Homo sapiens: one gene and its partner. The protein of the gene in region 2 purifies or fractionates together with the protein of the main gene of each other region. This does not show direct contact. Each region holds a gene or a part of one and is shown on either strand. Other genes may lie near its edges.

What was found.
Region 1: the proteins of TRIM38 (region 2) and FLNC purify together in Homo sapiens (affinity purification with mass spectrometry, with the first as the bait; one large-scale study listed by BioGRID). This does not show direct contact.

The regions. Positions count from the first base shown.
Region 1 is NC_000007.14:128,847,115-128,850,927, reverse strand, and holds part of FLNC (filamin-C), read right to left. Parts: intron 3,232-3,813; coding exon 3,064-3,231; intron 2,984-3,063; coding exon 2,860-2,983; intron 2,368-2,859; coding exon 2,211-2,367; intron 2,136-2,210; coding exon 1,946-2,135; intron 1,748-1,945; coding exon 1,724-1,747; intron 1,598-1,723; coding exon 1,350-1,597; intron 953-1,349; coding exon 854-952; intron 767-853; exon of another isoform or gene 545-766; coding exon 445-544; intron 126-444; coding exon 1-125.
Region 2 is NC_000006.12:25,965,654-25,969,466, reverse strand, and holds part of TRIM38 (E3 ubiquitin-protein ligase TRIM38), read right to left. Parts: intron 3,133-3,813; 5' UTR 2,945-3,132; coding exon 2,534-2,944; intron 143-2,533; coding exon 47-142; intron 1-46. UniProt on the Homo sapiens protein: E3 ubiquitin-protein and E3 SUMO-protein ligase that acts as a regulator of innate immunity. Acts as a negative regulator of type I interferon IFN-beta production by catalyzing 'Lys-48'-linked polyubiquitination of AZI2/NAP1, leading to its degradation.

The DNA of each region.
Region 1 (3,813 bases), on a different chromosome or scaffold from region 2:
GTCATACTTGATCCCCATCTGGTGCAGGCCTTTCTCAGTGGGTGCATACCTCACCGTGATGGTGCCGTCCTTGTTGTCGGTGATGTTGGGCCGTGCCGTCTTCCCCGAGGGCATCCGCACCTCTCCTGCAGGGCAGACACAGTTACGTGGAGACCCTGGTTTCCCCCACTGCAACCTCCCTGCTGTCCCAGGCCTGGTCCTGAGTGCTTCTGCTGCCACCCGAGAAGCCAGGCATCAAGAGACAGCCTGTGGCAGTGGCCTGAGCCCTGAACTGGGGACAGATGGCTTGCACCTGAGTTCTGGCTCTGCCCAACTTGCTGTGTGACCCTGGGTAGAGCTCACTTCCTCTCTCTGGGCCTTTGTTTTCATCATTAAGACACAGGACTGGGCCTGGAAGAGGGTTTCTCCCCTCAGCCCTCATGCCTGGGAGCCACAGGGCAGTACCTGTGAGCTCCCCTTTCTGCACCGCGAAGGGGATGACCAGGTTGAAGGGCCTCAGCATGGACTCCATTGGCTCCACAGGCACCACTGGCTCCTCTGTGGCCTGCAGCAGGTGAGAGGGAACAGTCAGTGACTGGGGAAGGCCCAGGAGTTTGACCCATGCTATGACTGAAGCTGGAGAGTGAGGAAAGAACAAGGTAGTTAATCATGAAACCAGCGTGGCAGGAGAGGTGCGTCAGCTGCAAGAGAAGGAGTGCTGTGCCCAAGTGGGGTTCCATCTGCCCAGCCTAACTCTTGCCTGCTCCCCAAGAGGCCCCCAGACCATGTCCCCGCCCTGGCTGCAGAGGAGTAGAGAGAAGAAATGAAGGAAGGGGAGGAGGAGGAGGACATCGCCTGGTGGGAGGCGCAGTACCCAGTGTGTGGGGCGGGCGCCGGGCCGGGGAGGAGCGTAGGGCTGGCGCAGCTGTGGCACTTCAGAGGGCTCCTCCTCGTGCGGCAGGGGGTCACACGCCTGGGGAGGCAAGGCACGGGGGCACAGGGTGTGGCAGCCTCACAGGCCTAGGGGCTGACTCAGAGAATGGCCCAGGAACCTGAAATGCTGGGTGATAATTTGGGTGTTCATCCTCCTGCAGGGCAGCCTCTGGGGAGATGGAGCTGGGGATGGTGGAGAGCACAGCGGGTTCCTCCAGAGACAGCTGACAGCACTGGGCAGGGGGCAGGGCCATGCTCTCCTCCCACTTCGGGGGTGCTGTGGGGAAAGTTAAGGCTCCATCCTGGAGCACTCTGGCCCCAGGAGCCCTCAGAGAAGTGGGATTCCTTGGGGACAGTTATCTGGGATCCCTGCTGCTGCTAAAAGGGCCAGGCCCCCCTCCCCAGCCATCTAGTCTTGCTGTGGCTACAGAACTTACCAGCACGTGGAAGGGGCTGTTGGGGATGTGCTCACCCCCGAAGCGGATGGTGATGACGTACTTGCCCGGCTCGGGCGCTGTGTAGTAGATGTCAAAGGTACCGTCATGGTTCTCAACCACATCCACATCGAGCTCTGCCCCATCCGGCGTGGACACCGTGCATGTCACCTTCCCCTCACCGGCTGCCTTGGCATCCACCGTGATCACCGTCTCCTGCCCAATCTGGATTCGAGGGCCCAGGCAGGCACCTGCCATGCGGGAGATCCTGCTCAGGGAGCTGGTGGGCTGGAGCCAGCCCTCTCTGTTCCCGCTGCCCGCCCCCTACCGCCAACCACCCTGGCCCACACCAAGAAGAGGAGAGAAAGGGCACTCACCCAGGCCATGGCCTCCAATGGACACTGGAAAGAGAGAAGAGTGTGAGGCCAGGCGGTGCTCAACGTGGGCTGGGGCATTGGGCGGGGGTGAGGGAGGGAGGGGCCAGGGCTAGGGCATGTGTGCTCTCCGACCAGCAGACCCCTGGGGACCAGGCCAGGGTTCTGGAGGGGCTTTGAGGGGCTGGGTGGTGAGCAGGGCACGGGCAGCGGGTGGGCACCCACCTGTGACGAGGCACTTGCTGGCATCCCCAGTGGGCAGAGCATGGATGCGGAAGGGCGAGTAGGGGATCTCATCACCGCCATACTTGATGGTGATGGTGTACCGGCCACTCATGTCCGGCAGGTAGGACACAGTGTACGTGCCATCCCCATTGTCCCGGATGTTGGCCTTCTTGGGCTTACCCTCGGGGTCCTGAGGGAGAAGCAGAGGTCAAGGCCCGCCTGTGCCTGGAGCATGACCTGCGGGGTGGGATGCACAGAGACTCACCAAGATCTGGACAGTGAGCAACCCCTCGCCCGCGTCCCGTGCGTCGATGGTGAACTCCACAGGCAGGCTGGCAGGGATGCCAGAGGCGTTGAGGCCTGGGCCGCTGGCCCGCACCTTGCTGGCATCATGAGCTGGGAGGACCTTGATCTTGAAGGGGCTTGAGGAGCAGAAGGGATAAACAGTTGGCTGGGTGGCATGGACGGGGCGGTGGGGGGTGATCTCATCTTGAGCCAGAGTCCTCCCCATAGACATGGGCAGGAGGGAGGACTGTGGGGCAGGGAGGAGGGACCAGTTCCCAGAAGCCGATGACATTCCATGTCTGGGGGTGGGGGCACTCTGGGACTCCCTCGACAGAGCCAGGGTACGTCTCCATTCCCCAGGAAGGTGCTGTGGGAGGGTCCAGGAGGAGGCCCTGGCCCAGGCCTCCTGCACTCTTCCTAAGGCGCTAGGTTTGCCGTAAAAGCTCCTGGGGCAGGAAAGCCTCACAGCAGAGAGCCCCGGGGAAGAGCGGGATGGGGTGGCGAGACTGGACGAGGCTGAGAGCTGGGAGAGGCTCTCCCAGGGGACTCCAGCAGTGATCCTGAGTGCCACCCCAGCAGGAGCACCCCAGAGCTCAGCCGCAGCACAGGAGCCCAGGGCTGGTCCTCACCTGCGTGGCACCTCCTGGTCAGCATACTTGACGGCTACCGTGTAGGGCCCGTCAGTGGCTGGGGTGTAGTGGACAGTGTGGGTGCCATCTCCATTGTCCCGCACCTCCACAGGCTCGGCCACACCTGGGCAAGGGGCACAGGGTCAGCAGAGCCTCCGGGCGTCCCGCCCCACCTCCCTCCTCCCTGCCCCGGCCATTCTATACCTGTGGGGCCCAGCACAGCCACCTGCAGGGGCGCCCGGCCAGCTTGACTGCAATCCACTGTGAAGGTCTGAGGAACCCGGGCCCTGACACCAGCCCCCAGCCCTGGCCCTGAGCACTTCACCTTCCCAGGGTCCACCACATCCTTCACTGGCACGCGGAACGGGCTCCCTGTGAGGAGAAGGACATTAGACCCTGCCCACCAGCCCTGATGGGTCCCCCTGATGCTGAGGAGCCTCGGAGGAGGAGGCCTTCCCTGCCTTTGAAATGCCCACAGGGAAGCCAGACCAACATGGGAAAATGGCTAGGAACTTGCTAAGAAAACACACACAAGAATAAATGAACTTGACTGCAGACTGAGGCTGGGCAAACCTCACTCATGTGGGTCCCAGGCCTGGAAGAGAAGGCCTTCCTAAATTAATAAAATGTGAAAATAAAATGTTTTCAAAAATGAAATGTATTTCTGACACTGTGGCTGAAATAATAAAAAGATGGGAAATTAGATAAGGGAAAAAATTTCCAATTTCAGCAGTCCCAAGTCATACAATATTTGAAGACATGACCTGCCCGGGCAGCTGGGTCTGCAGAGGGCAGGGGAGTTCTGCAGACGATGCGTGCAAGAAGGCCCAAGGCTGGCCTGAGCCGCCAAGAGGAGTGGACTGTGTCTGAGTTTCTGGACACACAGTGAGTGGTGGACCTGCAAAGCCAAGGTCTTGAGCTCCAGACAAGGGGCTAGGAGGCCAGAGTGTGTTC
Region 2 (3,813 bases):
CTCTAGAATGGAAAATAGCTTGAGATCAATGAAGTCAGATTCTTACTTTCCATTTAGTTATTCGCATTGCTGTGGACAGCTTCTGCTCCGTACATCTGTCTTCAAGTTGCTTCAGTTTTGTCACAGCTTTCTGGAGCTTTTCCTGAAGGAAAAATTTGATAAGTGAAGCCTATTCAATTTGACTCTTCATTAGGGACCTAGGGGGAATCCCAATCTTCTAAGATATATTTGAATAATAGTGAATATTTATAGAGTCCTCATTGTTTTTTGCTAGAGAGCATGCTAAAGGCTATATGTGCAGGAACATACTGATCCCCTTGGCAACCCTGAATAGTTGGTAGGATTTTAAACTTCATTTCTGTGCTGTAGAAAATGAGACTAAGAAAGGGGTAAAATAACTTGCCCAAAGGGCTATGACTGCCAGGTGGTGGAGCAACAATTGCAATCTCATCTGCTGACCCAGAGCCTGAGCTATGTCCACCACTAGAGTCCTGCCAGGAAAAAGTTGGATATAGAACAAGGTAATCATCATCTAAAAGATTTTGTAAAACAACATGCTGAACCAAGCAAAACCAATACCAGTGTTTGGCACACATGAAATTTTGTGTCTTATGAGTCAGGAAAAATCAGGATGCCAGCTGGTTATTAGAAACAGTTCATGGAAGAGGGGAATTCTGGTATCTTTTGAACAATGGTATCATGAATCCAATTTAAAATGATTTAGTATTCATGTCAAGCTTTTAGCTTATTCTTCAAAACAGTTTCTCATATTTCTATTGAAAGTGATTTGAAGCTGACCCAAATTGCTAATTGTAGTCAATGCTGAAAGAATTGTCTCCTGTCCTCTGTAAACCCAACAAGTATACTCATTCATTCTCGAGTGTTCTCAGGAAAAGGTTCTATGTAACTGTTTTAGCAAAAGATGACATTGTCCTTACTATATGCCAAGTGCTATTCTATGCATTCTATATTTTAATGTCCTCAAAGCTTATAACCACCTCCTGTGTATGTGTTTTAGGGAGGGAGGACACTGCTATTATCCCCATTTACAGATGGAGAAACCAAGGTGTGAAGACATTAAGTAACGTGCCCAAAATTGCCCATCTAGTAAGTGACAAAACTCAATTTCAACATAAGCTGGTTCCTTTTCTTACTACTTGGTGGAAAAGTAATTCAAATGGGAATATGATCATCGCAGTTATTAGCTGCTCCATGGAGTTTAAGGAAGAGCTGCCATGAGCTGAGTGGTGGTCATGATTGACATGTCCTTAGAAGGACTTAGAGCCTTCATACAAGACCACCTCTGCCTCATGGAGGACAGAATAAGGAGCCTGACACTGGAGACAACATTTTCCTCAAATTTAGGCAGGACAGAGAAGGAAAAAGGACATCAGGACTATGCCCATTCCTCCATGCTGCCAACAGCAAAGTCCCACCTTCCTTAATATGCTTTCTGGCAAGAAATCTGGATGGTACACAAAACCTCTCCCTCTGCTTCACCTTCCACAACCAAGCATTTCCAAATCTTTGACTCTTCTTCCTGAATCGTGCTTAAAATCTGCCCTCTCCTCCCTTTCTTATACGGATAGTTTGAATTTTACTCCTTGATATTCCTTTTATCATAGACATGCCACAGTAGCTGGGCACAGTGGTTCATGCCTCTAATCCCAGCATTTTGGGAGGCTGAGATGGGAGGGAGACCAGGGGTTTGAGGCCAGTATAAGCAAGAAAGGCAGACCATGTCTCTACAAAAAATAAAAAAATTATCCAGGTATGGTGGGGCATCCCTGTAGTCCTAGCTACTTGGGAGGCTGAGGTGGGAGGATTGCTTGAGCCCCAGAAGGTTGAGGCTGCAGTGAGCCGAGATTGCACCATTGTACTCCAACCTGGGATACAGAGCAAGACCCTACCTCAGGAAAAAAAAAAAAAAAAAAAAAAAAAAGTAGAGGTACCAGAGTGATATTTTCAATGTCACTGACCCTTCATTCCCCAAATGAAAATCCCCCAATAGGTGTTCAATTTTTACGTGTCCTTCAGGAGTTACTTCTAAGATGAACCACTCTCTACCCTAAATGTCCCTCCCCACCACCAAAACCAGGGACCTCCAGGCAGACATTTTTGATGGTTTGTTTTCTTTACTAGACTGTAGATACCTAAAAGGTGATGGGTCTTTCTTCCCTGTTTTCAGGCCCTACTGCATGGCTTTACATATTGTGGTTTTTCAAATGATATTCATGGTGTGAAACAAGAAAAAATGCGGGTGTTTGGTTTGAGAACAACCTGTTCTAAAGCAAAAAGAAATTCATCATAACACAAATGGATAGAGATAAGAGTCCAACCATCCCATTGAAGGTCAGGATGGACAGTCTAGATAATTGAGCAAGAAATCATCATAAACTATTTTTCAGAAGAATGACATGATGAAAGCTGTATTTCCAAGTCATAATGTTAGGTTTCAAGTTAAATCATCTCAGCTCCTGGGGAGCAGGATAAGACTTGGTACTTACCAAAGCTCCCGGGCCCACACACTCACCTTGTAGCCCTGGCATACGTCTTCAACAAGAGCTGTGGTGTGCCCTTTGTGCTGTGGTGCCCGCTCACAGCGCCAGCAGATGAGCTGCCCCTCGTCTTCGCAGAACAGGTGGAACTGCTCTCCGTGTTCCTCACATGACATTTCTTGATCCGTCTCTTTGAGGGCTTCAATGAGGCTTCCCAGCTGCTTGTTGGGTCGGAGGCTATCCATATGAAATGGAGCCCGACACTGGGGACAGCAGAATGTCTCCTGCCTCAGTTGCTTTTGGCTTGGGTTTTTAAAGAAGTCTGTTATACACAAGTGGCAGTAGCTGTGTCCACAGTTGATGCTTACTGGGTTCGTCATCAGGCTCAGGCAGATGGAGCAGGTGGCTTCCTCCATCATCTTCTTGGTGCTGGTGGTTGAGGCCATAGCTTTTATTGAAAAGCTCCAATATTGGCTCTAGAGATGGAGATGAAGCAGCCAGAATTTTCCACCGTGATGAAAATACACCTCACCTGCACCTCTATGTGATGAGCTGGCTGCAACTGACTTCCATAGGTCTTGAAGGTTTTCCTTCCAACCCCTATTATCTCATTTTGTATTGAAGAAAAGAGGACCTAAAAGGAAGAAGTTGAGGCTGAGGTTGTTTGGGCCACGTTTGAGAACTGCAACCCAAGTGCAGAGTTTCAAGTTGCCCTCATTAGCAAGCAGTTACAAGTGGTTGTTTAGAGGAAAAAAAGCAGTTTTAAAGCAGTTTTAAAGTTGTTTGCCAAGAATTTACATTAAAATAGCATAAGCTTTTGACTGGCTATACATTGTTCTTTGTATTACAAATCTCGGGAATATGTAGGTAATAGATGAGGCAGCCAGTCAGGAACAAAATGCTTTTAAACATGGGGTCTTAACTGAAGACCTATACTCCTGCCTCACTTGTCCTGATAAATTTTGCATACCTCACATAGCTCAGACTGCTCTAAATTATTTCATTATTTTTCTTTTCTCAGTCTTCTAACTTTTTTTTTTTTTTTTAATGAGACGGAGTCTCACTCTGTCACCCAGGCTGGAGTGCAGTGACGCTATCTCGGCTCACTGCACCTCCGCCTCCCGGGTTCAAGCGATTCTCCTGCCTCAGCCTCCCGAGTAGTAGCTGGGTCTACAGGTGTGCACCACTACGCCCAGCTAATTTTTGTATTTTTAGTAGAGATGGGGTTTCACCATGTTGGTTGGCTCGATCTCTTGACCTTGTGATCCACCCGCCTCAGCCTCCCAAAGTGCCAGGATTACAGGCATGAGCCACC